2 linked regions of the Homo sapiens genome follow. The protein of the gene in region 1 interacts with the protein of each later gene in a pairwise test. Each region holds a gene or a part of one and is shown on either strand. Other genes may lie near its edges.

Region 1 (16,257 bases):
TAATCCCAGCCACTTGGGAGGCTGAGATGGGAGAATTGCTTGAAGCCAGGAGGCGGAGGTTGCAGTGAGCTGAGATTACACCATTGCACTCTAGCCTGGGCAACAAGAGCAAGACTCCGTCTCAAAAAAAAACAGGTCTGATACTTACTAACACCTTATTCTGGGTTAGATGCTGTGCTAAGCGTTTTAGTATATTATTTTATTTAATACTCATCAAAACCTTTTAAGGAAAAATACTATTATTCATATTTGAAAGATAAATAAACTGAGACACATGGGAACTAGGCATCTTCCCTAAAACCATACCGTGAATAAGTAGGTGAGCCAGAATTTGAATCCAGGCACTCAGAATAGAACCCTGAGACTAAAGCTGACCTACGGTAGGAGAACAAGCTCAGACACTAGGATCAAAGGCAAAGACACAGAGAGCAACTAAGACAATATTAGAGCAAGAGGGATGAGGGAATGGAAACATGAGGACATGAGTAAATTGAGCTCCTTGCTCTTAGTAATTTAGAAATGGGCTGAGAATTTGCTGGTAGGAGTGGCATGTTAAGTACATGTTTTAAAATAAAAACCATACTTTATTAACTATGTGCTATGTCTGTAGTTAGATTCATTTTGACAAATTGAAAACAAATAAATACCTCATTATGATAAATTTACCTCATTATGATAAAGATAATTACTAAGGAAGGAAAACAAAATAAATCATCATTGGTAGCTATAAAAAAGTGCCATGACACCAGAAATAAACACCTAGAAGAACAAGTGAAACACATATCTAAGCAGGCACTTTACTGTTTTAAATAAGCACATATCTACTTTTTTAAAAAAATTTGAAGGTATCTCTATCAATCAGCAATGCATTTATTGCAAGTTTTCCATAGATTCCCTACCCTGTGCTATCGGTTGTAGGAAAATTTAAGTAAGGAGGAGGAGGTAGGTAGAGGAAATAGAAAAAGAGAGAGAGAAAGCACCTTTGACTCCCAAAGCTATCACTCTCAATTCAAATTCATTTGTATTCAATCAATGTGTATTAAACTTCCACCTTGCAGCATGGATCGTGCTCAATGATGGAAATACTGGTGGGAACATCATAGATACAGTCCCTCCCCTAAAAGCTCATAGTCTCATAGTGGATACAGACACAGAGCTAGGTAGTGACAATATTACAGGGAAAGGACAGAGAACAGTAGGAACACCTAGTGGGGCACCCAAGGCAGATTTTGTAAGTCAGAGAAGGCTGCCAGGAGGAAGTGAAATCTAAACCGAGATGAAGAAAGAAATTTTTGTCAAAAGAAGATTGGAAGAAAGAATCTCAGCAGAGGAAACATAAGCAGTAACATAAGAAACAGCACAGGCTCTCAATGAGGCAGAGTATAGTTAAAAACAAACAAATAGGCCAGGCAGGATGGCTCACGCCTATAATCCCAGCACTTTGGGAGGCTGAGGCAGGCAGATCACTTGAGGTCAGGAGTTCATGTCTTGCCTGGCCAACATGGTGAAACCCTGTCTCTACTAAAAATACAAAAATTAACCAGGAGTGGTGATGGGCGCCTGTAATCCCAGCTACTCCAGAGGCTGAGGCAAGAGAATTGCTGGAACCTGGGAGGTGGAGGTTGCAGTGAGCCGAGGTCACACCACTGCTCTCCAGCCTGGGCGACAGAGCAAGACTCTGCCTCAAAAACAAACAAACAAACAAACAAACATACAAACAAGCTTAATCAGAAAGGCTGAAGCAAGAAGCAAGAGGGCAGGTAGCAAAAGATAAGGTGGAGCAGTAAACAAGGGCAAGATCATGAATCTGCCATATGGTTGTTCAATATTTTCCTGAGGGCAACAGAGAGTTACTGAGAGTTTCAAGCAGGGAAGTGACCTAAAAAATGTACATTTTAGAAATCACTCTGTATACAGTACAGGGAGATGACCACGGGGAACAACAATGTTGGGGTTGGGGGAATAATTCGTAGCCAACTGCAGCAACGTAGATGGGAGTGCCTGGTGCCTGGGACTAAGGTGAGCTGTAGGAAGGGACTAAAGGGGACAGATGAGAAAGAATATGCATGAGGGAGACGTAACAGGAGTTGGACATGGCCATATGTAGCCCGGGGTAAGGGAAAAGTGATAGATAATGCCCAGGCACTGGCTTGCAAAACTGGGACGGTAACAGTGCCTATCAGCAAAATGAAAGACAAAAAGAAAAGCAAAAGAAGTGCTCAGAGCTTGGTACATCCTGGCCTTTCCATGTCTGTGGAACTGCCACAAGGATGTGTCTTCTAGGCAGTTAGATGTTTGGGTCTATAGTTCCATTAGGGAGTTATCAGATAGACATGGGATGAAAGCCAAAGAAGCAGACAAGATCACCTTCAATATGACTTTTCCAAAAGCCAGTCAATGAGGATGCATTGAGAAGAGAACGTGGAAACAGAAGAAGTCCTGAAGAAAACCACTATTGAAAGAAGTTAAAGGAAATCAGTCCACAAAATGTTGTAAGATGAATAGCCAGAGAGGTTGAAGGAAACCAGGAGAGTGAATGTAGTACAATGGAAGGAAAGGAAGAGCCTAGCTCAACAAGGAAGAAGTTGTCATCTGTGCACATGCTTCTCAGAAGTAAGGTAAGAACCCAAAAACATCCATCACATTCAATGCTGATGAGATCACTGTTCCCCTTGGTGAGAGCTGCTCAGTGATGGAGCGATGGTTGCACAAGACAGCCTGTGGTGGATTGGGATAAACTGCAAGATGGGAGAGTATCTCAAGGGAGAGGTACAGTTAGGAGATGTTTTTACGATGTGAGAGACAAATATGACTCCATGCAACTGGGAAGCAGTTAGGAGAATAGGTGGGGTTATATACGAAGGTGGAGAGAGGGGTTTTATTAAAATTGTGAGGTCCTTGAGAGGGCACAAACAGGTGGCATTCAGAGCCCAGGTTGATGTACTTGTCTTTGCCAGGATGGGGCCAGCAAAGGCACTAACAGAAGGGCAATCCAGATGCAACACAAAGAGCATAAAAGTTACTCTTTGCAGAGACAGAACCAAGATTTTCATAATCAGTCAATCAGTAGCCTAAAAGGGAATTTGATACCTAGGAACAGAAAGTTTTCCTGTTTATGCAGGTTTCTGCTCTAACCACAGCCTATGAGCACAGTGGGCGGGGGCACGGAGTTTGAGCAAGGAGAAAAAAAGATAAAGCCTCAGCTCTACCATGCACCTGCAATATGACTTTTAAACAAGCCACTTGACTTCACAATGCAAACTGATACCTTTATTTACCAGCTTCGTATGAGCAAGTCTAAAATGAGTCTCACTGCTGTTGAAATGAACCAGAGGATGTCTAGAGAATGAAATTCCAAGTATTTATTAAGTGCCTACTCCTCAAGGGCTGTCCCTGTACTTAAGAAGAATATTTTTTTTGTTACATTTGAGTAGCATTTGACTTGTAATTACTACACAGCATCCAAAATGCCTGGAAAGACTGTTCAAAATGCAAATTTCCTAGAGCCAATCCTAAGATTAAGTTTCAGTAGCTTGGGAATAGAGCCTGGGAATCTGCATTTTTATCAGGTTCCCTGATGATGCTAGAGGACCATTTGGAAACCCAACACTATACATCACATAGCACACCTTCCCACACATTGTCTAATTTAATACATGTGTAGGGTATTGAAGCGTTCAAATTAGAGAAAGCTGAAACAAACACAAATACCGACACCTCACTAACTAAAACAGAGACCATTATTCACGTGCGCCTTGAGTCAGGCAAGGTGTATTTATTGAGTGCACATTGCACCAAACCCTATACTTGGCAAAGAGAATATGGACTTGAATTCGATTTTGGACTTTTCTTCAAATATTCTTTAGTCTATTAATAAGGAAAAAGAGGAACGTCAACCCATGATGCCAGCTCAATTTGATAAGTGTTTTGACAAATTTCTGACATATCTTGTGTCCAATATACAGATGGTGCTATGGAAGCATAAAGGAGGGTCTCAATTAGAGTGGGCTGAGGGGACAGATATATTGGAGGGGCTGACGCTTGATAACCTGGGTTATTAATTTTGAGTGGAGGTTAGATCAGACAGGCAGGGAAAGACATTCCAGAGAAAAAGAAGAGTAAGCAGTGTGTCTGTAATAGTGACCCATGCCTACCCAGGAAAGTTCAACCATCACTCATATGGGGAAGTGGGCCCAAACAAAAGGCATGAACTATCCTAAAATTGGGAGAGAACACAGAGAAAAATGAATGCTAGGTGAAGATATCTTTGTATAATCCACAAAAAAATAAAATATTAAACCAATTAGTGCTAAAGGTTTTACCCAGGGAGCATTCATGAGTCTTTAATGGTTCGCTGATAAGAAGCCACAAAAGACACTTTAATATGAACACTCAGTTATGGGAAGGAAATTAGAGAACATGGAAATGTGGAAGCCAAACTTGGAAATGGGCACTGAAGAGGAAATTGATAGCCAGAGTGTCAATGCATGCATGCGGGTTAAGGGAAGCAGGATACCAGCTGCAAGAAGTTTACTGGGAGGGGTTTCCCACGCCATTGTTGTGGTCTACAAAAGTAGAAAGCAGGTAAGATGTTCAGAGAGCTGGGTAAGTTAGTCACATGGAAGCTGTGAAAATTTCTAGAACAAATAGTAGGGAGATATGGGGTAGTACCTAGAGGGGAGAGAAGTGTTCATTAGTGATTTCTTTACATTCTAGGTGATGTGAACCTGCTGAAATGCTGCAGGGATTTCAGGCAAGTTAGCCTTGGCAGTGAGAACAGATACAAAGAGAGAAGGAGGTAGGAGGTGTGTGTGGGGACGGGGGAAGTGGGGGAGATTTTTATTGTTCTGAGATAGGTCTAAAATGAAGGACAGTATATCAGTCAGTACAGGCTAACTGCTATAATAAATAACCACACAATTTTGGAGTGGCTTAACCCAAGAAGATTTATTTCTTCACAGTCCAATGCAGTTTTCTTGGGAGGGGAAATTATCAGCTCTACACAGTCATTCAGGAGCTCCGGCCTTCTTCCATCTAGTGGCTCCTCCATCTCTTAGATCCTAGGAGTCCTACCATGAATCCTCTACAAATGGCCAAATTGGCAAAAGAAAGCTCTGGAAGATTGTGTTAATAATAGTTTCAGTTTCAGGAGCTTTCAGGAGCGGCACCTGGGAGTGGCTTATTCTACTTCCACCCACATTCCATTTGCCAGAACTCAGTCACAGGGCATGGGGCAAATGACTGCAGGCATGCTGGGACTTGTCATTTAGCTGGGTGCCCAGAAGGAAGGGAAATGGGATTGGTGAAGCCATATAACCATCTCTAATCCAGATGGACACAGAGTATTCTTTAGCTCAGACCAGGGTGAGTATGTTAACTGCCTAAGGCAGTGAAGGACAGGAGATGGAACAGTTCATTTCATTAAAGGATAAAGTGGGGCATATAATTTTCCTGAACCCTTACTCCAAGCTCCAAGGCCAATTTTAAAGGATGACAGTTTGAGCCAAGGACCTGTTCAGTAAAATTTGGAGTAAAGCTTTTCAAATAGTGCCAAAGAAGCAACCAAAAACAAAAAAAAAAAAAGAGAGAGAGAGGATACATCAGATGGCACCAGCAGAAAAGATCACATACATTTGATTGACTCCTAATCACTCCCCTGTAACTTTTTTCCCCACACAAATTCCTCACACCGGAAATGTTCATTTAAAACAATTAAAAATCCTTCAGGGAACCCCCACCCCACTCCCTGCTACCACATGATCAGCCCAGGGGCTCACATGCTGAAATCTATAGAGAGCTTTAGGTCTCAGAGTATTTGAAGGATAGGCAGGGATCTCACCACCTTAACACAGAAGCAGTCCTACACCCCAATCAGGGAAAGCCTTGGACACTATCTATTGCTACCTTTAGCCTGGGGCAAAGGAGAAAGAGAACTGCACAGCTGTCCTAAACAAGTAGGGTATGAGACCTCTCTCTTCCACCAAGAATAATAATAAGATAGCCTTGATTGAAAACTCACTGTGCGTCAGACACTATGCTTACATGTATGAACTCACAACAATTCAGTGAGGTAACCACTATTATTATCTCTTTTTTACAGATAAGGAAGTTTCCTGATGCCCACAAAGTTTAAATAACGGACTCGAGGTTACCCAGCAATAAATGTTGAAAAAGAGTTTAAATTAGTTGGCTTTCAGAGTTTGTGTTTTGGACAACTATATTCTACTTTGGACAGCACTGTATTTTCTCATTGTAAAAGCAGGCAGGATGGAGTAAAAAATAAAAGTCAAAACAATTTGAAAACAATATTTTGTGATGAACATAAAACATTTTCTACAATCAGCATCCTTCATTTGATTGTCTTACTTTATTATCTGGTAAGTGCCAAAAGAAGACAAAGTGTAGATGTATTTTCCTTAGTTTACTTTTAGCTCCCTTTATTTCAAGCCTCACAGTCAATGTGTTCCCTGCCTTATGTTTCAAGGGGGCTCCAGGGTATTTTTTCTCCCATGTGATTACAAAAGCAGTTAGCCGTTTAGCCTAGCAGGGGGAATGAGAGGAAACGGAGAGGCCAAAAATTTTAAACTTTAGGCACTATATCTCCAATAACTGACAACATTTTATCTTAATTATGCTTTATAGTATTGGAATACTAAACAAAGAGGAACGACCTGCTTACTCTGTAGTCTGGAGCAGAATGAAATAGAACACGTAGGGCAGAACACAACAAATGAGTTGTAAATGTCTGTGCACAAGGCTTGATCTTGGGGATGGAGGGAGGATATTTTTTAAGTTATTCAAACGCTGAGTTGCTTTCAAAGAGTTCTTCTCAGACATCAACAATGAACTCTTCAGATACCCTCATCCCAGACAGCCCTGAAGTCCAGTTTATAACAAGACCAATAACTCACTCCTTATCTCTAAAGCTACTTGTTCAATTCTCTTGACTTCAGGGCCAAAATGAGTTGTTTATTACTTATGGCAAGTATAAAAAAGGCCATCTCAACCTGTGGTCAGTTCCACGAATGGCAACTTGTTTTCTGATAACTTGCATGCACATGGACAATAGCCAAATTTCCAAAAAGATTTAGGTACATCAATTGTATACCGATGGTCATTTAAAACCATTTTTTCCAGCAATATTTTAGCATCTAATTTGATAAATCACTGCATTTGGAGGCTGTGGGGGTGTACAGAGACCTTCAGAAAGCAAACATAAACTGGAGGCTTGGCGGTTTGAAGATATTCAAGCAGAAAAGTCTAGCAAAGAAAAAGGGGGTTGTAATATGGATCAGTCTCCATGTAACCTTGAGCCAATCATCTAACTTCTCTGAAACACCAGTTTTCTCATTTTATGAAACAAGATTTTATTCAATAAACACTATAACTTAGTGAAAGACTGGATCTGGTATCCCGTAGGCTTGGATGGATTGCTGGTACTAGTATTGGAGCTTTTGTTTCCCTGTTTGTTACAATTCGGATATTAGTGAGTACCCTACAGAGGAATAATGATTAAATTGTCTACTTAATTTACTCTTAAGTGTCTGACCACGTATAAGTGGTCAATACAGGCTGTTTTCATTTTTACTATTACTGATGGAACACACTGCATGACTAGCATTGGGAAAGAGGCCCAGAATACAAGGTTGTGCAGAATGCAAAGTCTATTCTCAAGGAATTCGCTTTGTAGGGAAGAGGTGGGGGGTTCAAATAGGAAGTATCAAATTCCTCATTGGGAAAGAAAAGAGGCTTCATAGAAAAGCTGCTGGAGCCCAGGCTTAAAGATGAGTAGCATTGGGGCCAGAACCAGATGTCTAAGAACTCTTTGAGGCTTAATGTTAGGAACTTTTGAAACTATTGGTCTGGAATGTTGTATATATGAAGTTCATTTTTTCAGCATCCAATATTCAGAACACATTCATTCATTAACTTTCCATCCAGAAATGTAATCATTAACTACTGCTGGAGCCTCCTTTCCCACAAAACCAAACAAAACTTGCTTAGCAATCCCAATTCTGAGGCTTGGAAAACACTTTTACATCCTACTCTCTGCTTGCATGTATGAACTCACATACATGAGTTGTGAGGTACTCCTCCTATATTCAGAAAATTGGAGGCCAATATCATAGGCACAGCCAGGGAATGCACCGGCCAAAGCTCAGGCTTTTGGGTGGCATTTGACACCAAGCTCCTTTTAAATCGGGCATCAGCTCTGGGTCAGCAGCCTCACTCCAGTCAAAGAAGAGGAGCCAAACGTCGCAGGAGCAATTTCAAAGACGTCTGGGGAACGAAAAGGGTCTTCGATCCAAGGACCAGCCTAGGGGCCATCGGGAACCAAGGCTCTGGGGGATCCCAGCAGGGCCCAGACGCCCGCCTCGGGCAATGTCGCTGCCTGCCCCGGGCCGCTCGCAGTGCCTGGGCCATACTGGGGTGCCCTGGGGTTTCTTCTCCATACCCAGACTCAGCTTCCCCGCTGGAGTCTGTCTTCCTGGAACACGGAACGCGGGCGGGCTGTGTTCTCAGTCACAATCAGCTCGGATGAGCTGGGGGGCGCGGGCGCAAGCGGGCATCGGCACCTGGCAGAAAGCGCCGCGCCCCCCGCGGGTGCGCACACCTCCGCTCCCCGGGGCGGCGCGCGGTCGGGTGTGCGGGGTACGGGGCGGGGCGGAGCGGAGCAGAGCAAAGCGCACAGGAGGCCCGCCTCTGCTCCCCTCCCCCGCCGGCGAAGATTGACACAGCTCGAGCACCCGCCCCAACCAATGAGCGCGTCCTGGGGCGGGCCCTGGGACCGGCTGCTCCGGCTACTTAGAGTCGTCGGCGCGGCGGTGGGAAAGCAGAGCCGAGCCGGGACTGTCCAGTGGGAGCAGGCGCCCCGGCCAGCGCAGACCTGGAGGCGCACGGGCGCCGCACCGCACGATTCGGCTCGGGGTAGAGCGGAGCCGCAGCCCCACGCGCAGCCCAGGACCCACTCGCCACCGCCGCTTCCTCAGCACCCATGGGGACCAGGAGACTTTAAAGGAGTTTGGGGTTTCGGGAGCAGGGAAATCACGGGTAGGGAGAAGCGGCTTTCTTTGCCTTGGAAACGGTTTTTCTTCATCCGATTGTTTGGATCCTGTGCTGGGTAGGAGGGAGAGGGGTCTTTGGGCTAAAAGTGAACCTCTCTACACACACACGCTCCCACCCACACCCACACACATACACTGCACTGGCTTTCTCCATCCTTCCCCTGCCTCTTTGTTAGGTTATTTTAGACAGAGCAGCCTCGCCCTGGCGCAGTCCCATTGGCCCTGATGGGGACAAGGCAAGAGAAGTAAGGGGCAGAGTGCACCTGCCTGTGAGGGCAGGTGTGCCCGGGTGCTTGGGCGTACGTGCAACGGCGAGCGTGCAAGCGTGGAGCTGAAATTGTGTACGAATGTGTGGGGTCTAAGTGTGCCAGTGTGTCGTCGCGAAGGTTTGTCATTGTGGGTGTATGTGACATACACCAGTATACCAGGCTGCCAGTGTCTGGACTCCCAAGTGTCCAAAATGTTGCTGGTGTCAAGTGAATGCCTGAGAATGTGTCTGATTGTCATTGTGCGAGCCGCTGTAAGGGGAGGAAGGCAACCTAGTGCAAAACTGGGAGGTGGGCTGGAGAGGGTGGGGACAGAAATGGGAGCTTGCTCCCAGCTCACTGGCCTTAGGCTCCCTTCTCCCTTTCAGCCCACCCCTCGGTCCTTCCTGGGTGTCCGTCTCCCACACTGCCACAGCCAGCACTCTCCTCCCCACCGGGACCCCGCAAGCTCTCCAGCCAGCCTGGGTGTTTTCTTCTGGGAGTTGGACCGAGTTCCCGGAAGGGGTCGGAGGCTGTGTGGTGGCGTCTGCTCTCGCCTGACCTGTGGCGGCTTCTCCGCCCCTCGTACCCCTGGGGAGGCACGGAGGACTCGGCTGGAAAGGGTGACTCCGGTGAGGGCACGTAAGCTAGCCGGCAGGTCCCAGGGGCACTGCACGTCTTGGGGAGGGACACCGAAAGGGGCAGCCCGGACTCTGACGGTGTCTCTGCCTCTCTGTGCCTCCGCAGATCCCCGCTCCTGGCCCTCGCCTCGCCACCTCATTGATGGGCAACCAACTGGACCGCATCACCCACCTCAACTACAGCGAGTTGCCCACAGGGGACCCGTCGGGGATTGAAAAGGACGAACTGCGGGTCGGGGTTGCCTACTTCTTCTCGGATGATGAGGAAGACCTGGACGAACGCGGGCAGCCCGACAAGTTTGGCGTGAAGGCCCCCCCGGGTTGCACCCCCTGCCCGGAGAGCCCCAGCCGCCACCACCACCACCTGCTGCACCAGCTGGTCCTCAACGAGACTCAGTTTTCCGCCTTTCGGGGCCAGGAATGCATCTTTTCCAAAGTGAGCGGTGGCCCTCAGGGCGCCGACCTAAGCGTCTACGCGGTCACCGCGCTGCCAGCGCTCTGCGAACCCGGCGACCTGCTGGAGCTGCTGTGGCTGCAGCCCGCGCCGGAGCCGCCCGCGCCCGCCCCGCACTGGGCCGTCTACGTGGGCGGCGGGCAGATCATCCACCTGCACCAAGGCGAGATCCGCCAGGACAGCCTGTATGAGGCGGGCGCGGCCAACGTGGGCCGGGTGGTGAATAGCTGGTACCGCTACCGCCCGCTGGTGGCCGAGCTGGTGGTGCAGAACGCCTGCGGCCACCTGGGCCTCAAGAGCGAGGAGATCTGCTGGACGAACTCGGAGAGCTTCGCCGCCTGGTGCCGCTTTGGCAAGCGGGAGTTCAAGGCGGGAGGGGAGGTGCCGGCAGGCACGCAGCCCCCGCAGCAGCAGTACTATCTCAAGGTGCACCTGGGAGAGAACAAGGTCCACACCGCCAGGTTTCACAGCCTGGAAGACCTCATCCGCGAGAAGCGCCGTATCGACGCCAGCGGCCGCCTGCGAGTGCTCCAGGAGCTCGCCGACCTCGTGGACGACAAGGAGTAGCCGCCTAGGGGCTGCCGGCCCCTCTGCCTCCCCCGCACCTCGCTCCCTTCCCTTCCCCGCACCCGGACTTCGCAGTCAGCGGTTCTCAACCTCTGCCCCGCCCCGCCACGCGCGTCCGCCGCCGGTGGCCCGGGCCCGGGCTGCACCCCCGCATCCCCAAGCCAGCGGCAGGAAGTCTCAGGAACTGCCCCAGGGCCGAAAGGGCGCCGCTGCGAGCGCCTGGCTGACAGCCACAGCGGTGGTGACGGTGCTGGGAGACCCCGCGTGCGCTTTCCCCTTGAGATGTAAACCGGGAACGGGGAAGGGGCTGAGGGGAGAAAGGACATGGCCTTCCCCGCGAGTCCATGGCCAGTGACTGTGGCCCGACTCGAAAACAACCCTCTTCTCAAAAGGGACCATCACCGCCCCGAGCGTGCGCACACAGACCGGTCGGAGGCGAGAACTGGTCTCTACAGGGCACAGTTCAGCTCCTCTGTGGATGCGTCCCCAGATCGCAGGATTTCCAAGAAATCGAGCCTGTCCCTTGTGCACTTGGGAATAATTCCCCAAGACAGCACTTCGGGATTCCGGGTTATCCTGAGGCTGCCCGGGACTTTTCCAGCTCTCCAGCCCCAGGTCTCCTGACATTGTGTTCCAGGCTGCGGGCTAAGCCAGACAGTGTTTGCCTCCGGTTCTTTCCACCGTGGGAAGCGAACGCCACCCCCACCCGCCTTTGCCTGCGAGTCTCCCTCGCTGGCAGAAGGGAAGCCGGCCCGGTCCCGGGAGGAAGATGGCGCTGCGAATTCGGTGAGGACAGCCGGCCCCGCCCCCGACAAGGAGCTCGCTCGTTCACCTGGTGTCTGGGAACTTGAATGTGTGAAGGGCGCTTATTGTTCTGAACCCTTGATTGCTCCCTCCTCGGGCTGCATTTCAAAAATAGTCATATTTTTAAAGGAGTTGGAGGAGAGGGAGGGGGAGGACATGGCACCATTCCAGAAACCAGCATTGTTACAACACCATAGCCAGTATATTTAGTTTGGCTTTTCCTAACATAGAAATCTTCAAAGCTGGGGAAGTGGAAATAAAGTTTTAAAAATGAGAGAGCAGTTTTCCAACTATGTCAACAAAGCCTATCGTGTTGATGTTTTTATTGACCATTTTAGCAACAGGCTAATAAAATTTCAAATTGAAATTTTTATTTTCATGGCTTTAATCCATGATAGTTTAAATACTGGGGGCCATTAAGAGTGGATGTAGCTAAGAGCTTAGCTAACATTGCCTTTTCACTCTATTTTTCTCAGATATTGTAAGCATTCTGTTTTTCAATATTGTAGTTAATTTTTTGGCTTTCAACAGCAGCCCTAGTAATGGTGGAGTTGTTAATTAATGTGTATATTGTACTGAATTTCTGTCAGTTAAGGGGTTCACTGCTTTGGTGGAAATTGGTGGAAATTGCTAGCAGGTTCCACGATGTTTATTTTTTTCTCCATGTTGTATATCATTACCATTTCACATACGCGTTTCTATTTTTCTTCCTCTCCTCCTGATCTCCTTAAAAATGAATCTAGAGTTGGTGGCTTTTTCCCCCTCCTCTTTGGCCAGTTCCACAGTTCAGTTCTTCCTGAAAACAGGGATGATGAACTTGTAGGATCAGGACAAATGTGTGTTTTTCAAAAACTTAAGGCTGGGTGTGAAACACCTTCTGTGGACAAGGATTTGTAAACTTCTCTCCTCCCTCCAGCTGCGGCCCCAGCCTAACTGATAGTTACTTGATTCAGTGTGCTAGACACTTAAATAGCATCTATGTCTCTTTCAAGGGAATTTGTCAAATAATGCTGTTTAGCTAATTGTTGCAAGCAATTGCATATTAACAGCTGTGATTTTGTTGGACAGCAAGTATTATGGCCAAAGCCAGTTTCTTGGCATTTCAAAAATAATGCAATAAAAACTAGTTGAGGTTAGCTGAGGCTGGAAATGCCTTTTTCATGGTAAATGATTCACTTCTATATTTTTCTTTCTTTTTCTTTTTTTTTCTTTGGTTTTCATCCTGGATTCATCCCCTGATCTTAAATCAAAACGTCAGATCAATGAACTATGAACTAAAGTATTTTTCTTAAGCCTATTGAGTGATTTATTTTTTAAAAAATGTTTAAATGCATATGCTTTTCTTTCAGCACAAACAACAGCAAAAACTTTTGTAATAACTAACTTACCTTTGCATGTATGAAGAACTGAGTCATTTATTTCCCTAACTTACTCCTCTTTCAAGTAACAGGTGGCAGATCATAAAATGAATTCTTTATTGTATCTACACACTCCACATTCTTTACTGTGTCCTACTACTGTATCTTGGCTCCCTGCTGTATTAAACACCATCTTAAGCACTTGTTCCTGCAGGACTCCTTCTTGACATTTTGTCTCCCCCTTCAAAGTCACTCAAAGAGTGGGACTTCATCAAAAGAAATGAATTAGTCTCTATCACACCGAATACTAAGATTTATTTCCTCTGATGGTACATAGATTTCTCTCTCACTAAGAGGGTCACTCTCATAGAGGAATGTCTTGTCAGTTTTATACTTGCTGAGGCTAGACTGACAATAAAAATGAGCTGGGCAGTTAAATTAGCATTTGTTACTATATTGGCCTATAAAGGATCAGGTTGATGATAATACCTCTAAAAATATGCAATAATAAAACAATAGTTATGAAAGAAACTTGAAAGGTTTGCAAGGTTTCTCCTATCCCTGTTAAAATTATCATTTATTATCTCTTTGTCAGTGTTAGTAAGGTAACCCATGACAGAATAATTTGAGTGATAGTTCATCATGCAGAGGATATGATCAAGATATTACCTAATGGTTTTATCCTGAAAAAGGTGTATACTTTTAGGGCACTGTTAACAATGCGAGTGAAACCAAGATGGTGCAAGTTCCCTTTGCAGATGGCGTGGGCACACTTGATTTTTATTATGAGTGAATGTAATCTTTCTGTATTTTACCAGAGTTACAGCAATTACCTGAAAAGTTTCCTAACATTTTAATAATGTTAGGGATTTCGTTTTGGTTTTAGTTGTCCTCAAGAGACAACAGGTTCACAGTAATTTCCATGATGTTGGGTGTGGCTAAGCTGGGGATTGGTTCTGTTCCCCCTGCTCCCGTGTAGAGAAAAGCTATATTTATACTGCATTCTTTCTCAACTTTCAGGTAAAACAAACTATGATTTAAAAAAAGAAAAAAGAAAAGACAGGTACTTTTACTTCAAAGAGTGCTTTGCTACATTTTTATTTAAACCAAAAATCAAATAAAATAAGGAGGGGGGCTGGGTATACTTTAAACAAAACCAGTCCTGAAATGCTGTTATTCTCAAAGTACATTCCAAAAAAAAAAAAAAAAAAAAACTATAGAATTTACGTATGTTACATTTTTAAGTATGAGTTAAATTGATATAAAGTGTTCCTCAATATTTAATAATGTAAGCTGTTGTCATGACAGTATTTTTTAAAAATAATAACGTATATTATAGTTACGAAACACTTGTGCCAGATTAGAACATCAAGCACAGAAGCAGCTGTATGATTTACCTGTTTTTTTGAAACTTTAATGTTTACCTTCCCCTATGTTTAATTTTTCTGTGGTGAACACTTTTGTTAGAACATGGCTTTTTTATTTTTCTTGGAAAAATATGCTATTAGTATTTACAAAATAATTAATTACCTGAATAAGCAGTATATACTAAAAGTCTTCAAACATTACTTTATTGATTACTTATGTTTTGTGGTGCGCTTTCAACATCCCTAAGAGTTAAATGTCTTAGTCATCTAATACATGGAACAGGGTCAAACTTCAATGAAATTAATACTTATTGCACAATCATAATATAGCAACCTAATTTTCTTTTATTTATAGGCATATCTTTAAAGCTTTCTTCTCTTTTTTGAACAAATGAAGAGAATCCAGTTAGTTTTTGCCTTTCAGAGGTGATTTGCCACGTGCACAAAGGGTCTGTAGGTGAAAAGACAGGCTTTTGGGTTTCTTGAAACATCAAAAACTGAATTTAGAGAATGGTTATCTAACACTCAAGTCAATGTTTTTTTTGAAATTACTAGCTATTGGTATAATATACATATATGTACATGTATACATATACATACACACATATGTACATTTACACATATGTAAGTATACACTCATATACATATATACACATGTATATATACTTGTGTACACATACATTTTTGCCTATAGCTAGCAATTATTTCATTCAGATACACACACACACACACACACACACAGGCTACTTAAAATAGAGAGTGACTTGAGATATACAAAAACAGGAAGAAAAGCCCTGGAGGTCATATAGCTAATGTATAACTGCACAGCAAGCAGCTATGTCTAAAGCTAACAATAAAAAGAAAATGTGGGAGTTGTGCAATTAGTTTTATTCTCATTTTTTGGAAGAATATGTTCCTGGTTTCTCTAACTAAAAGGAAAAAATTCAAAGGAAAGTTGTAAATATTAGGAAGTAACTGAAAAATAAGAAGCAAGATAAAGTGGGGAGGCTATGAGATCATATAATGAGCTAATAAACTTTTCAACAGGGGACACCTGTTCTCCCTTCTAACTGAAGACACTAAAGAGAAGCTAAGATCCTATCTTTCAATCATTTAGTAATTCATAAAATCCCATTATTTCATAACTCAAAGTTTACCTTTGAGGTTGTATGTTTACCTCATTTGAACTCGAAATAGAAGAGGTTTAAGTATTTGAATAAGTTGGGAAAAAAAGGAAAAATAGTCTTCCCTGCCCTTGTCACTGATGGTGACACTACTTGTAATTACTGTATTTTTTGGCAGAACACTCAGATGAACAGATTCCTATGCTGTGGACTTTTATCATTCTTTTTGATGGCTGATAGTAGAAAGCACACAGTAGGTACTCCATAAATGTAAGACTATGGCAGCTGTCTAGTACAAGTGCTTCTCACTGATTCTTGGTTACCAGGAAAACCAGAAAGCCCGTCACTTGCCTTGCCTGCAAAGGCGAGCCTAAAGAAATTTCTCTAACCAAAATTGGCAGGTTCTTTCCACCACAAAAGGCTCTTGGAAATATAACTTATGGGGCTTAAGGCTAATTTGAGTTGAAGGGTATTTGTAATATTTGATTTGCTTTTAGCAGAGAAAACAATAAAAGAATCCAGGAAAAGTAGAAAATGTTCTCTTGTCATTTGGTCAGAAAGGGAAAAGCGAAGGGAAAAGCAAAATAGTTCCAACTGTAACTTTCACAACTTCATCTCTCATTCACCTCAAG
Region 2 (16,063 bases), on another chromosome or scaffold:
CCGTGCGGAAGAGGAACTCGGCCTGGGCGCCCTGAGTGTTCTGCCGCAGAAAGAGTCGGAACAGGTTTTTGTGAGGTCCATGTAGCTTCATTTCACACTTTTCCCCCCGAATGGAGGAGAAGGGAGCATGGTCAAATACCAGGAATCGGCTACCCCTGCAAAATACAAATCTTTTCAACCTGATTCTAGAGTTTCCATACTTCACCTACCCTCATAACCTTGGGTTCGAAATCCCTACATCTACAGCCTGCAAATTCCCACAAAAACCATAAGATGGTCCTAACTTGCTCCCAAGATGGTAGCTCCAGGGTCCTCAGGGATTTGTCCTAGTCTGGCAAACCACACACCTAGTGCAGTGGATACATTACCACTTTAAAGAGGTGAAGAGATGGAATTTATATACATTTCCCAAGAACCTTAAGACCAGAGACTTAAGCTCTGGAATTAGCTAAGTATCTCTAGAATAGCAGGTTGAGGCCAGTCCAAAGAAGCCACAAATAGACTCATGTGAGAATGTGATAAGCTAATTTGCTACATTTTGCTCTGTGTCTATACCATATTACATGTCCTGCTATGTGGTCTCATGATACAGTTTGATGGGATCCCCTTTTTGCTTTGGGCTTGTTTTTCTCTTCTCTAGGCTATGACCTGGGCTCTATGGGTTAAGCCATTGAGAAGGGCTCTTCTAGGAACATGACCCTTCTCTCTCCCTTTCAGACCCCCCTCTTTCCTCATCCCCTTCCCCTCTTGTGCCCTGGCCTGCCACTCCAGTCACTGACTCTCGGGGCCGAGACAGCAGCAGACAGTCATTGAAGAGGTGCAGGTGGACTGGACGCGTGTTCAGCTTCCTTCGTAGCCCTGGGGAAGCACTGAACTCCAAGGCTGTCAGCTCCCCACTTTTCACCAGCCAGCGTGACTGAGAAATGAGCGGGAATATCTACAGGGCAGAGGAAGAGAGAGAAGGCAGTGTCACAGATGGGAGAAGCATGAGGTTTGCTCCCAGTCCCACCCTCCTCCCCATGCCACTTCCATGCAAGTTCCACTTGAACAAGCATCTCTTCCACATCTGCCTTCTGGCTCATAACCCATCACTTAGATTCTCTTTCTCTCTGAACCCTCTAACTACCACTGTCCACTGGTGTGTGGCTCCCATGGTTGTATGCTCAGGTAAATAGAAGATGCCTATGGTCCAACTCAGGATAGTGAGTGTGTGGGACAGCTCTGCCCTAGAAGCCTGAACTGAAGGAGGGATGGAAGAGTCCAATCAGGGTATGTGATGGAACAAGTCAGTGAACACTATATGTGTCTTAGAGGTTAAAATAAAATATTAGAGGCAGGTCTGGTATCAATTCCATTTTTTATACCAGAGATATGTGAGCAGCTGGAATCAAACATGGGGGTGAGAAGAACTAGGTGGGGCGTCTTGGAGCTGGAATTTGGTTAAAGATGAGGGTGTGGTCTATGCTTAGTATGTGAATAAGGGATTTTCCTTCTTTTTCAGGAGTGTAAAGATAGTATGTGTTCTAAGCACGAGCGTGGTGGCTCACGCCTATAATCCCAGCACTTTGGAAGGCAGAGGTGGGTGGATCACTTGAGGCTACGAGTTGGAGATCAGCTTGGCCAACATGGTGAAACCCCATCTCTACTAAAAATACTAAAATTAGCCAGACATGGTGGTGCAGACCTGGAATCCCAGCTACTCGGGAGGCCAAGGCATGAGAATCGCTTGAACCTGGGAGGTGGAGGTTGCAGTGAGCCAAGATCGCACCACTGCACTCTAGCCTGGGGCGACAGAGTGAGACTCTGTCAAAAAAAAAAAAAAGATAGTATCTGTTCTAAGTTGGAATTTGAATGTGGAATGTCTATTTTAGATTTGTATTTCAATGAGGGATGCTGGCTCTAAATTTGGATCCAATCTTATGTGGGTTTGATTAGACTAGAAAGAGATTTGATAAAGTAATAAATGAATCAAGCACCAAAACATTCTTTTATAAAGGCTCATCCTGAAAAGTTCTCTCTCATTTGCCCATTTCTCAAATGCACCCCCCTTGTCCTCAGGTAACCACTGTTCCTTTTTTTCTTGTTCTCCTTCCAGAGTTTCCTTATGCACACACAAGCAGACACCTGTATAGATTTGTATCCTCCCACTTTTATACCAAAGGTGATATAATATACACACAATTCTTTACCTTCATCATTTCACTTAGCAGTATGTCTTGGAGACCCAAGTAGGCCTCCCAGAAATAGGACAGAATAGAAGGTGGGCAGAAATGAGGGGAGGGGCTGGGGATAATGTGAGCAAGGTGGTTCCAGGTTAGGGGGTGATCTGCAGGACATGTTAAGGGAGTTCATGGGCAGGGATGGGGTGCATGGGACCGACTCACTTTGCACTCAAACTCAATCTTCTGGCTCAGGTAGATTAGTTCCTCTGTCCGTCGCATACTCTGGACATTGTTATTGCAGTCCCGGATCAGCTAGGGGTGCAGAGAGTGAGGAAAGGGGAAGGGCACTGTGTTAGAGGCTTTGACCTTTGAGTCCCTTGCAAGCAATCTGGAAATAGGTTATGACAGCCTCAGTCATTTTTCCCAGGCTGGAATTGGGCAGGCAGTATCAAGCACAAGTCCTAGGCAACTTTGTATGACTTGGCAGAACATTCCTGAACTGAGTAAAAGTGAGACTGAATGGGGGGGTGATGGTGGAGAGGGCACAGTCCCTTGATGTGGAGTGTGCTCGGCGTGGGAGAGGTGGCCGTGGGGTGTGTATGTTTGGAAGTTTGGCGGATGCAGGGAGGTGGCTGAGCTCTCCCAACAGGGTCCCACCTCCCATGCTCCCTGGAGTCATGGGCCTAGGTGGGAAAGACCTCTCTGAGAAGAACACACAGAGGGTCAGAGTGGAGGTGGTGGCTGCCTACCTGCTCCAGGGCGTGGTGTGCCTTCGTGGCCTCTGCCTCCTCCGAGGAGCCAGGCTGTGTTCTCTTCAGAATGTTCTATTGAACAGACAGTAGGCAGGAGTGAGATGGGAGGAAGAAATGGGAAACAGGAAGAAATGATTGGGGGCTGGTGAATGGAGAAGCCCAGGGACCACATTTTAGCAGCAAATATTTCCAAGCAAGCAGGCAGTGGGCAGCAGGGAGACAGGATGTGGACACCTGGCAGAAGAATGGTTGGTCCTTTGTTGTGGGTCTTCCTGAGGGCATCCCTTTGAGTTAAGGGGAGAGGATCAAGGTAGCATCTGCCCTACCTGGAGCAGCAGTTTGAGGCGGGTGATGCGTTGGAAGGGCAGAATCAGAAAGGACTTGAGGGAAAGGCGCTGGCAGACGGGGTCGCTCTCCAGCTTCTCCAAGACCTCCCGGAAATTGCTGTTGCTATTCCTGCACGGAGAGTGAGCCTTAGGGGAGGGGGGATATGGGGAGCAATGGGGGATGCAGTGAAGGTGCGGGGAAGGGAGGTCAGTGGAGTATCTGTGGGCTGGGAAAGAGCGGTGGGAGCTGATGTACAGGGCGCTCAGATGTGATGCTGGGGTAACCAATACAGAGGGCGGAATGGGGAAAGTGTGCTCTTGGGATAGCCCTCTGGGCTGGGGACTGGTGCATGGTCACCTCAGGGCCTACATGGGGATTAAATGGGGGATGAGTCTCACATCAGGCTCTGGAAGGTGCGTTCCTGATAGGTCTGGTTGGTGACATAAGGCAGGTAGACCCGGCGGAAGTCTGGGGCGTGGTTCAGGACTACGTCACATACTTGGAAGGAGAAGATATTGTTCTCAAAGTTCTCTTCCAGGTCTGAAAGGAACCTGTACAGGATTTAAACGAGTCTCATGAGACTTCTGGACCTCAGCTAAACAGCTGACTGGCCCCTGGTGTACACTGAGCTGGTGACTTCTTCACTCCATTAGCCAATAACTTCTATTGACTCTCTGCTCTGTGCTCCTTGCTATGCACTAGAATTCGCTCCAAAACTGTCCTGAGTTTGAGCCTGATTTAACACTTTTATTCTAATATTCCATTTCTCATTCTTCTTTTGACCCTGTTCAGGTTTTCTGATCTTTAGATGGTTTTTCCACCTCATCTCCAATGCAGTGCATGACCACAGTAATCCAAAACCTCAACCCAGGAAGCATTGCTCATTTACTTATCCATTAATGGATCTATCCACCCACAGACCCTCTCCTCTTCTTGCCATTCTTCTTCCTATAACCATCGGGAATCATGGAAGAAACTGAGGCCCAATTTCTTCCCATAACTGTGAAAATGAAAGGGTTTCTAAGAGGGGAAAAAAATAACGGAACATTTAAAGCCTAACAACAGTGAGGCTGAGTGAGTGGTATTTAGGAGAAGGGGAGTCTCACGTGGCGCTGACGTCTCGCACATCCTGTAAACGAGAGAAGAGCCATTGGTGCTCCTGGTTGGAAAGTGTGGCCCGGAGTGAAGTTGAAAGTTGGAAATGATCCACAGCTATGTTTAGACTGCGCAGGTAGGAGGCCTCTGACACAATCAGCTCAAATTTGACCTAGGAGGTTGGAGATGAGGAAGATTAATTAAGGATTTTATTTACCCCCTGGAATATGCCAGCCACTGTGTAATGTTTTGGGGATAGAGCAGTGAGCAAGATCCTTTTATGGTTCACAGTCACACCAGAACCTAAGTTGATCTGCGGGGAGGGGAAGAGCATTTGAGTAGGATTTAATCTAGGGTACAGGTACAGGCCTTCAAAGGTATAAAAGAAAAATATGCTTTCAAGAAATCTAAATAACAAAAACAAGAACAAAAAATGAGTAACAAAGTGAGATGGATATGTTAATTTGCTTCACTAGGGTAATTCTGTTACTATTTATATGTAGCCCATAACATCATGTTGTATATCTTTAATATACACAATGAAATTTATATTAAAAAAGCTAAATAGACTGGGTGCAGTGGCTCACGCCTGTAATCCCAACACTTTGGGAGGCTGAGGTGGGTGCATCACTTGAGTCTGGGAGTTCAGGACCAGGCTGGGCGACGTAGAGAGACCCTGTCTCTACAAAAAATACAAAAATTAGCCGGATGTGATGGCGTGCACATGTAGTCCCAGCTATTTGAGAGGCTGAGGCGGAAGGATTGCTTGTGCCTGGGAGGTGAGGTTGCAGTGATCCCAGATTGCACCACTGCACTTCAGCCTGGTGACAGAGTGAAACCCCATCTCAAAACAAACAAACAAACTAACTAAACTAAATAAATTGAGCATTTTTTGAACCAAGTGTACAGCAGTAGTGGCCAGAGATGAAGCTGCAGCAGTCGAGGAGGCCTGAAGGGTAATGTAAACAATGTAAAATTGTTTGGACTTAAGACAATGGGACAATGAAAACAGGCTTTACATAGGAGAATAACTTGACCACATTTGTTTTATATAAAGTTATTTTTTTTTATTTTTTGGAATTGAGATGGAGTCTTGCTCTGTCACCCAGGCTGGAGTGCAGTGGCACGATCTCAGCCCACTGCAACCTCCGCATCCCAGGTTCAAGCCATTTTCCTGCCTCAGCCTCCTGAGTAGCTGGGATGACAGGCATGCACCACCACGCCCAGCTAATTTTTGTATTTTTAGTAGAGACAGGGTTTCACCATACTGGCCAGGCTGTTCTCAAGCTCCTGACCTCAGTTGATCCACCCGCCTCGGCTTCCCAAAGTGCTGGGATTACAGGTGTGAGCCGCTGCGCCCAGCCTGTTTTTCATAAAGTTATTTCTAAGCAGAATGAGAAGAAAAGATGAAAAGAAGCAAAAGCCATCCATGTTAAGAAACTGTTGTAATAATTCCACATGAGAGATGAAGGTCTGAATAGCCATGGAGCTGAAGAGAAGTAGATTAATTTTATAATTATTTATGAGGTAGAATTGGAAGGGTTGGATTATTTGCTAGAAATGGGGCCTCAAAGAGAAGGAAGGTTCAAAGCTAATGTTTTGTACTCACAGCAAAAGCTTTTTGAGTCGGGCACCTGGGTGAATGATGGAGTCATTTACTGAGCCAGAGAACTTTGAAAAGGCATAGATTTAGGGGATGAAGGTGATGAGCTCAGTTTGAGGTTTGAGGACAGATGAGAAGCAGGAGACAGAAGCCGGATATCTGAGAACAAGATGGCGCGAGAAGCAGGAGACAGAAGCAGGATATCTGAGAACAAGATGGCGCAGCTGTGGTTTAATGCATGCCCAGCATGTGAGAACTTGTCTGGAGGTTCCAGCAGGGGGCGCTATGACTCATGACCGTGCCTCTAGCTGGGCTCCTCATGCTTTTCATCCAAGCATGTGGCCTCAAGAGAGATGCCTGGATAGAAAAGAGAAAGGAGACACACCCTGGTGATGACTTGGATGACCAATGACACAGCCAGATGACCCTCCCATACAACAACCCTGAACAGGGACACTGAAGGCTCATTTGCATCCTTGCTCTAACATTCACTACACGACTGACTTTGGGTGGCTCATTTAACCTCTCTGAATCTCACTTTTCGTGTCCTTTTATGTGGATATAGTGACCCCCATCTCACTGTGGAAGATGCAACAGTTGAAAGAAATGGAGCCTGTGAAAGCACTTTGTGAACCCCAGAGGTACTACTTTATAAAATGAATATGTGTGTTTAAGAGATAGAAATGTAAAGCCCTTTCTTCTCACAAACATGAGACCAGGGCTGGAATAGGAGTCCTGCTGGACTTCCCAGCATGCTGGAGTTGGTAAAAGAGAGCTAGAACTCGTGTCATCTCCCACTGTTTGGTCAACAAATATGGGGAAGATGAGTTATTTTCTAAATATCTTCTCTGTGCTTAAAAATTTGCAGCCACAACAGGGCTCTCAAGTCTGAACTTTGCAAAGTCTAAAAATGTATTCTCTCTCTGACTTGGTAAAAGCATTGTCTGTCCATAAGTCCTCCTGGCCCAAATTTTACTCCTCCCTGCCTCTGAAAGGCAGAGAGTACGGCACTAATATTTATCAAACTATACATCAAATATTACTGCTAAATTAGATATGCATTATTTCATTTAAACCATTCAGCAACCCTGAAAGGTAGGCATTATTATCCTCAATTTGCAAGTGAGGAAACTGAGATTTAGTGATGTTATAAGGCTGCCTAAGCTAGCAAATGGTGAAGTCATGTTTCAAACCTAGGTCTGGCTTACTTAAAATGAAAAGTCAACATTTTTTGAGAAATTACTATGTACCAGGCATTCATGTTTCTTGATCCTTGCAGTAACTGTTTGTATCTCAGTTTTACAAATGTCATTTGGCCAAAGGTAAATTGGAAATATTAAAGTGGGCTCTGGGGCTGGGCTCAGTGGCTCATGCCTGTAATTCCAGCACTTTGGGAGGCCGAGGCGGGAGTATTGCTTCAGCCCAGGAGCTCGAGACAACTGGGCAACATAGTGAGACACCATCTTTTCAAAAAATTAAAAAATTAGCTAGGCATAGTGGCACATACCTGTAGTCCTAGCTACTTGGGAGGCTGAGGCGGGAGGATTGCTCGAGCCCAGGAGGTTGAGGCTGCAGTGAACAATGATTGTACCACTGTACTCCAGCCTGAGTGACAGAGCAAGACCCTGTCTCTAATAAATTAATAATTTTAAAAAAAAGTGGTTTTCATATCCAGGTCATTTCTTCCAGAACCTAATTTCTTAAACATTATTCTATTCCATTGTTCCATACTGTCTTTCTGGGAAGAAAGGTTTTACCCCATATTTCAGACAAATTAATAAGAGGCGCTCTCCATGTAAAACTTACTAATGGTAATAGCTTAGAATCAGACAAACAGCCTCTAGTTCAGTCTTGCTGTTGGGAGTAACAATCAAGCAGGGACTGATGATCACTCTAAGGCCCCTGTTAGATTGATGGACCACAGGACAGCTGCAAAGGGCCCTCTTCAAGGGACCCAACAAAGAGCCCCGGAATGTGCCTTGGCTAAAGAGGAAAACTGTAGTGTAGCCTGAAACCCTGGTTGAACAGGGAAGCTTTCCTCTACCCTGAAACAGCAGTGATGATGGGATTAACTCCACATTCCTCCACACAAATTCAGAGGCAATGGCCACCATGTATAGCCCAGACCAACATCAGGTAGGAGCAAGTGGCCTATGGCATGAGGAGGTGAGGATGAAAGGGGAGGTGGTGAAATCCAGAAAACAATTCAACTTCTTCAGAATGGACATGACCCACAGCTGTGGCATGTACACGCGCCTGTGTGGTGGGGACAGCCGACTCTTGGTGGCAGTGGTGAGCAGGAGAGAAGGATGCTAGCAAACAAGACCTTGTCATCTTTTCTGTAGCCCCCTCCCCACCGTGGCCTGCCCAGTACCTCTTGCAGCTTTTGGTCTTCATGGGTCATGGAGAGCAGCACGGTGCTGTTGCGCACCACGGGGATTTCCTGCCAGAGGGAGCCGCTGGAGGCCATGGAGAGCCGCTGCAGGTACGACTCGGAGGAGACCAGGGCCTTCCGAGGCTGCCGCGGAGAGCTAGGCCCGGGTGTCTCGGACAGGCTCTCCAGCCGCTGCTGGCTCTGGATCTCCTTATTCAGGACAACATCACTATACTCCTGGTAAAGCAGCTGGGCTGCAGGGCAAAGAAGCATGGGAAGGAAGAGAAGCAGGAAGAAGGGACGGTGAGCGGAGGCAGGGAAACAGATCTTCTGCAATGCCTTCTCGCTAGGGACATCCCCACCCCACTGCTGACATCCACAAGCCCCTCTCCAGTGCTGGGCAGAATGCCCACCTGGTTCTATAGTTCCACTTCAAGGTACTCACAGGAGTTGATGAGTTTGGAGCAGCGTCTTGAAAAGCCTCCCATCACCTCCTTTGGTTTTTTCTCCCTGTGGAGTAAAGAAGGGCTCTGGGGTACCTACTGGCCATTAGACACAGAGCACCCCAGGTGACTGTGGGGGACAAAGTCTCTAGCCTCTGGGATGTGTGCTGGGATGTCAAGACCAAATCCCCCGGAGAGGCACAGAGTTGCAACTTGACCCACTTGGGCTAACATGGAGCTTTTGTGGGGTTTAGTTCACAGCCATAGGGCTTGGGAAGATGGATGACTCGTAGGCTCGGCTGACCGAATGAGGTAGATAAAGACAATCTCCCTAAGCTGGCATCCCGGCATCTCTCTCTTCTCCTCCTTACACCAAGAAGAAACAGGAATGAGCCATTCGGGGTCTCAGAACCCTTATCAACTGAAATCCTCACTAGGGGACTCTCAGTATCCCAAGTGAAGAGAGTACAGTGTGGCTGTTAGGGGAGAGGGTGACTTACCGAAAAACAACAGTGTCTGAGGGTCCCGGATGTTTCTCCACGGCTGGACCTCTTGAATCTAAAAGTGGAAATGGGGAAGATAACTGAGATTTCAGAGGGATAGAGAGAGCCAAAGAAGATCTAGAGCAGGAGATGCAGGGGTCCAGAAGGGAAAATGGGCTTTATTGGGAAACTGGGAGGGAAGAAAGTGGCAAAGCAGAGAGCGTGAAAGAGATCAGTACCAGTGACGTCCCGAGCCACGGGTCAGGATGGGACTGGGACAAGTACAGAAGGCCTTTTCTACTCCCCAGGAGGAGAGCAAGCAGGGACTGTAACTGAAGAGTAGAAGGGAGTCCAAAATAACCTTGGGACATCCAAAGAAGGTGCTGGTTGAGGGAGAGACAGGGAGATAGAGGGGAAGAAGAAGGAAGAGCATCCCAAGGAGCTTGGAGGGCACTTCGGGGCTCTCTCTGTGTTGAGGTTAGGCACACATGTGAGCGAAGCCAGCAGAGAGAATGTTAGGAACCCTAGGGACAGAAGATGGGATGAGGTGGGAAGAGCTGGGAAAAGCTTGGTCTGATGTGTCACTGTGGTCCCGGTTCTTGCTCACCTGAAGAGCCCTCAGGCAAGATGGAAGGTCTGCGCAGGCCCTGCCGGCTCCAGCCCTTGTGCTTGTTGGCCCCCTCACTAGGAGCCACAGCCTGTCCACTGCTGTCCCCTGGTGGCCTCCCTGAGTCCCGCCTGTGGGGCCAGCTGGACGCCTTCTCCAGGTGCAGATGGCTGGGTTTTTCTGGCTGCCTTGCTTGGCCCACAGGTGACCTCCCTGGGCCACTGGCTCCTTGCTGAGGGGTTGTCCTTCTCAAAGGTTCTCTCGCAGGGGCCTCAGGGTGTTCTGAGACCCCTGCTTCATCCTTAGAGGTGGGTCCCTGGAGCTCCGGAGTCCAGGGAGTGGTAGGGGAAGAGGGGCATAGGAAGTTTGTCATGTTGCTGAAAGCCATGCCAGGGGACACTTCGCTCTTACTCCTGCTGGTGGAAGTGAAAGACTCTGTTGATCTAGCTGTGGCCGGGGGCCAGGAGGTGCGTCCAGCAGAGGCAGGGAGGGGGACTGTCCAGTCTTGACAAGCAGGTCTTGTTTTGGCATGACCCCCTGAGTTCATATGTCCTCCCCGAGTGCTCCTGCTCCTCCCCCTGGACTTTGGGGGCAATGGGGGTGGTTCGGTGGGAGGGTCTATGATGGGTAGTGGGGGTAGAGGCCTGTAGATCCTTGAGCTACCAGGAGCAGAAATGGGAGGAAGGTGGGGCTGCGGCAAATCAGGGGTAGGGGGTAGCGGCTTGTTGTATCTCCACCTGGGGGTGGCCTGAGCATGGTGGGAGCTGTCTGGGGTAGATGGCAGAGGTCGGTGCTGCCTGGCCACAGCGGGGTCAGAGGCTTGGGGAAGTGGGCCTTTATGGGGGGCATGCAGCCCTGAACCTAGGGCCAATGGAGGAGGGTGGCTATGCTGCTTCAGCGTGGGAACCACTACACGAGCATGGCCATCTGTCTCCACCACGGAGGGATGGGTGTCCCTCCTCTGTGGGGGAGGAGGGGGCAGAGGTTCGTGGATCCTCACATCCTCCATGGAGACAAAGGATGGGGAAGAACCGTAGGCGGGAGACTCTGTGGCAAAGGCTGGATTATGTGGGGAGACCCAGGGCTGGATGCTGGGAGGACTGCTGGGTCTCTCTAGATTTGAGATGGATTCTTGAGAGTCCTGCTTCAGCGTGGATAAGGCAGTAGGGGATGCTGAAACGGTGCTGTAGTCCCTACCACTCCTTCTGTCCCTTCTTGGGGTCACAGAGCTGTAGATGGCAGGTTTGGGGGGCCTCTGGGGCAGCTCTGAGTGGGAGTAGGAAAGCAACATTCCCACCAGGTCTGGAGTCTGCTCTGTCCTGTGAGAACCAGGGAAGGAGTCACTCCGTAAGTGCTGGACGGTGCCTGTGGAGTTGGCTGGGGGCCTCGGAGGGCTGGTCCCGGTGGAGGGGAAGCCATAGAGGGCAGCCGGGCACATCTCAGAAGTCCCACAGGGAGATGGGTCATCCATTGAGAGAGGGGCACTGGCAGTTTCTGGAGCACGTGCAGCACAAGAGGTTTCCCTCCTGGGAAAGGCAACTGGGGGCCTGGCAGATACCGAGGCAGGTGTGATGGGGTAGGCTTCAGCAGGACTGGGAGGAGCTGAATCTGGTGTCCTTGGAGGAGTCACAGATGCACTGGCAAAGACCACCTCAGTCCCTTGGCTGGACACTGTTCCCTTCCTCAGCCTGGATTCCTCTTGCTGGCTGTTTTGATCTATTTCCTTGTCAGGTGACTCCTCAGTCAAAAAGGAGCCCAGTAGAGAAATGGGCTGGTGAGAGCACCTGATGGGCTCTAGCGAGGGAGACAGAGCTGCGGGGGACAGTTCCTCAGCCCTGGACTCTGTCTGAGTCCCGGGAATCTGAGTCATGAGATATGAGGCACCTGGAAACAGGTCACAGTGAGGAGAGTCCTCAGGGGCTATCAGAGCGGGCATTGAAGGCCCATGATGCTCATTCTCCTCTTCCCTGCTCCTCGCTCTTCCCACTGCCCCCAGCCTGCCCCCATCCCAACTCTCTGGCTCTTTCGCCTCCTGCCCGCTGACTGGCACCCCTTTCTCCTTTATACCATGATCTTCTTGCTTTCCAGTTACTTCCTCTGATTTTCCCAAAAAGGTTTGACTCTTTTCGTCCTGAGAGTCCGCCCTATTCTCTTCTGGCACCTGCAGCTCCCTCTTCCTCTCTTCTCCCTGTTCTGGACCTCCCTGACCCTGAGCCTTCCTCTCCATATCCTCCTGCTCCCACTCACCGTCATTCAGACCCTCTGGCTCCCCAGTGAGCCCCATTCTTTCTCCTTGTCTCCCAAGCATCACATCTTGTACCTGTTCCTGTTTTTGCTTCTGTTCTCCCTTTTCATCATTAACCTGCTCTATCATCTGTTCCTCCCCTAATAGCCCATCGGCACAAACATCCTCCCTCAGAGTTCCTTCCCCCCGAAATCCTGCTTCCTGCTGTCCCTGCTCCTCCAGAACTTGGACCTCCTGGGGATGCAAGAGCCCTTGACTTTCCTGCAGCTCCTCAGGTGGCAGCTCTTCCCCCTGCCTGATAGTCCCACTTTCAGAGCCTTCATTCTGGTTGGTCTCTGCAGGATGCTCTTCGCAGGGAGAATAATATCTGGTCTGACCAGAGTTATCTGAAGAGGTTTCCTCTTCTTCTTCTGCCTGTCCAGATCCCAATGTCAAAGAAGTAAGTCCTGGCCAAAATTCCACCTCCTCTTCTTCGCTTCCCAGGTCACTGGAAAATGGGGCCATGTCTAGATGCTCACTCTGAATGGGGCAGGCCCAGAGCTCTGGGGGAGCTAGAGTCCTTGCTTGTCGGCCTGCTAGGCTCTGGGGTACTGCCTCCCAGTGTTCCGGAGTGTCACAGGCCTCAGCCACAAGGCTTTCCTGATTGGGCTCCACATCTGCAGAACCTTCCTTGGGAAAAGAGGGCATCGTCTCAATCGCATAGTCACACACATCCCTTAACTCACTCTGCTGAGTTGCTGAGAGTCTGTGTTCCTCTCTCCACTTATAGGATGGGTCCTCATCTTCTTGAGCTTCAAGCCCCAAGGCAGAGACCTGGCTGCTCCTCATGGGAGCCTCAGGGATAATGCTGAATTCCTCTATGGCAGAGATGGGAGGAGAGGCTCCACGCTGGGCCTCCTCAGCCTCCATCAGGGCTGAATCCTAAGGAGGAATCAAAGACAAATGTTTCTAACAACTCTGCTTTTACCTATCAGAGGAAGAGACCATAAAAAAGAAGAGTGATGCATTTATTTGGTTCCATTTAGGGTCATTCTTTGAGACAACAGGTTCTCAACAAAATAAGCAATAGCCTCTAAAAAACTTGTCATTGATGTATTTATTTCATAAATATTTTCCTAGCGACCCTGTTAAGTGTGGGGCATTCAGTAGTGAATGAGATAAAGATCTTGTCGTCATGGAGACTGTGGTCTTGTGAGGGAAACAGGTCATAATGAACAATTAAATTATAGCAGAGGACCATTGTCAGAGAGTGCCCAGAAGCTCCCAGTTGTCAGTTCTCTCTAGACTCCATTATGTCATCTTCTGTCTCTCCCTGTCTACTCTTCGGACACTAGGAGTGACTCATCCTCATATAACCCCCAGACACAGCAAGGGACACACCTCAGATCTATTAGGCCAGAGAAGCAGTGTCAGGAGAGGGTCTTCCTCTTAAGCTGTGGACATCAGTTAAAATAGGCCAGGCTATGATAGCCAATGTGTGAGGTGCTATGGTTTCATCTTCTTTACAGAGGGTTTGGAGTTTACTCATCTTTCTGTTTTCCATAGTGTCTACTACAGCATTGTAACTAACAGTTTTGTTTCCAATTCTAGAGGCAGCTGTTGTAAAGTGGGATGATAACAGCCTTATTGGATTAGTGTTGAACTAGACACATTACCACCTTGAAGGAAGACCACAGAAGGGTGCTTTCTGCATCACCTTACTCTCCCCTTGGCCTCAGTATCCATATGAACTCTTCTCATTAATTCTTTTGACCTTCCTGTCTTTTGATTTCGACCTTCCTGCCTTTCTTCTCACTTCCAGCAGAACACCTCATCTCCTATTTTGCAAAGAAAATAGAAACTGATGGAACTGGGTTTCTCTCACCTCAATTTCTTGCGATCCAAAGCAACCTGTATTTCCACTCTTTCTATCTTCCGCCCTCAGTCAGGAAAAGACGTATCCCTCCTTTCCATGCTCTGTCATTTCTTGCCTGCTTCCCCAGGAACACTGTGCACTCATACCTTCAACATCCCTGCTGAACAACCCCTGGGGTATGGAAGCATTCCCACATTCTTCTCATCTTTCAAATGACTAGAAGGAGTTGCTCTTATCTGCTGTCTTCATACTCTCACATCCCACCTGCCTCCAACTGAGCTTTGATAGCGGCATTCTGCCAATATTCCCTACAATCGACATGTTGTTAATTCCAAAGAAGACCTTATGGATCTTCATTTTGGGTGGTTCTTGTCAGTATTTGACAGTACTGAGGTTAGAAATACTCTCTTGTTACTTGTGGTATTACATTTTCCTGGTTTTACCCCTTCAGTTTCCTCCAGTCTTTTTTTTTTTTTCTTTTCTTTTTTTTTTTTTTTGAGATGGAGTCTTGCTCTGTCACCCAGGCTGGAGTGCCGTGGTGCAATCTTGGGTCATTGCAACCTCCATCTCCGGGTTCAAGCCATTCTCCTGCCTCAGCCTCCCGAGTAGCTGGGACTATAGGTGTGTGCCACCACACCCAGCTAATTTTTGTACTTTTAGTAGAGACGGGGTTTCACCATTCTGGCCAGGATGGTCTCAATCTCCTGACCTCGTTATCCACCCGCCTCGGCCTCCCGAAGTGTTGTGATTATAGGCGTAAGCCACCACACCTGGCCTCCCCTGATCTTTTAACTAGGTTAAATTGTACCCCTCTTTGTAGCACTTACCAACTATAATTCTCTTTACTTTTCCTTTGTAGCATTTATACAATTATAATTATATAATGATGTGTGTATTTTGAGTTACCCTCTATTGCAACCAATAGATAGTAAAATTTATGAGATTAAGAACTATGACTTGCTGAATTATCCATACTTAGCCTAATAGTGGCCTATACTCAGTGTTTAATAAATATTTTTCACATAAAGAATAAAATTCAGGTCAGAATAAAATGTGATCCTTTTACTTCAATGGAATATGCCCACCTTTTCCTAAAATCATGATTAACAGTTTACACAGAACTTTAAACATTTAGAGCTCTATACACAACAAATTAATTTTTCTTATTTTTCATTCTGAAACACTAAGGTTTTCCTGCATACATGTCATTAAAAATAATGAAATGCTTCTTTAAATATGTATGTGCCATACATCTAAGAGTCATCGTATAAGATGGGTACCATTATTCTGCCCATTTTACAGATGAAAAACTGAGTTTCCCAATGCACTTTATGTATATAATCCTGACACTCTGGGAGGCTGAGGCAGGTTGATTGCTTGAATCTAGGAGTTTGAGACCAGCCTGGACAACCTGGTGAAACCCTGTCTCCACAAAAAATACAAAAATTAGTGGAGCATGGTGGCACGTGCCTGTAGTTCCAGCTACTCGGGAGGCTGAGGCAGGAGAGGGATCCTGGGAGGATCCCTTGAGCCCAGGAGGCAGAGGCTGCAGTGAGCCAAGATCACATCACTGCTCTCCAGCCTAGGTGACAGAGTGAGACTCTGTCTCTAAATAAATAAATTAATTAATTAAAATAAAATAAAATTCTTGTTTCCCTCCTGGCCCAGATTCCCCATATCTAATCAATCACCATGTGCTATTGACCTCGTCTGCTAAATATCCCTTAAGACTGTCCACTTCTATCCCATCCCTCTCCACTGGTGCATGCTGCTACCGTCTCGCCCGGGCCACTGCACCCGGCCACAGCTTGGGCACTGGCCTCCACCCATTTCACGCTATTCCAGTCCTTTCTCCATACAGCACCTAAGTGAGCTTCAAAAGCACCAGTTCTAGCTTAGATTCTTCAGCAGCCTCTGAATGCTCTTGAGATGAAATCTAAATCTTCAGCATGGGTTATACTCCCTGCACAACCTGGCTCTGCCTTCTTCTCTAGCAGCCTATTCACCTGTCACCATCTGTCCCTGCCCCCATCCCCCCCCTCTCCCACTGGCTTTCAGTGTCTTTAGCTCACTTCTCTCTGTGTCTCTCACCTGTAGGCCTTTGTAGACACTGCTCCT

Evidence for each region.
Region 2: the proteins of LRATD1 (region 1) and ARHGEF5 interact in binary tests that used the Homo sapiens proteins (3 or more experiments, as listed by UniProt).

Annotation. Positions count from the first base shown.
Region 1 is NC_000002.12:14,623,887-14,640,143, forward strand, and holds LRATD1 (protein LRATD1), read left to right. Parts: upstream 1-8,830; 5' UTR 8,831-9,051; intron 9,052-9,699; exon of another isoform or gene 9,700-9,942; intron 9,943-10,057; 5' UTR 10,058-10,093; coding exon 10,094-10,972; 3' UTR 10,973-16,155; downstream 16,156-16,257. UniProt on the Homo sapiens protein: May play a role in cell morphology and motility.
Region 2 is NC_000007.14:144,359,606-144,375,668, reverse strand, and holds part of ARHGEF5 (rho guanine nucleotide exchange factor 5), read right to left. Parts: intron 13,012-16,063; 5' UTR 13,000-13,011; coding exon 9,846-12,999; intron 9,315-9,845; coding exon 9,257-9,314; intron 8,824-9,256; coding exon 8,759-8,823; intron 8,568-8,758; coding exon 8,314-8,567; intron 4,509-8,313; coding exon 4,348-4,508; intron 3,793-4,347; coding exon 3,640-3,792; intron 3,371-3,639; coding exon 3,241-3,370; intron 2,987-3,240; coding exon 2,912-2,986; intron 2,475-2,911; coding exon 2,385-2,474; intron 938-2,384; coding exon 780-937; intron 156-779; coding exon 1-155. UniProt on the Homo sapiens protein: Guanine nucleotide exchange factor which activates Rho GTPases. Strongly activates RHOA. Also strongly activates RHOB, weakly activates RHOC and RHOG and shows no effect on RHOD, RHOV, RHOQ or RAC1.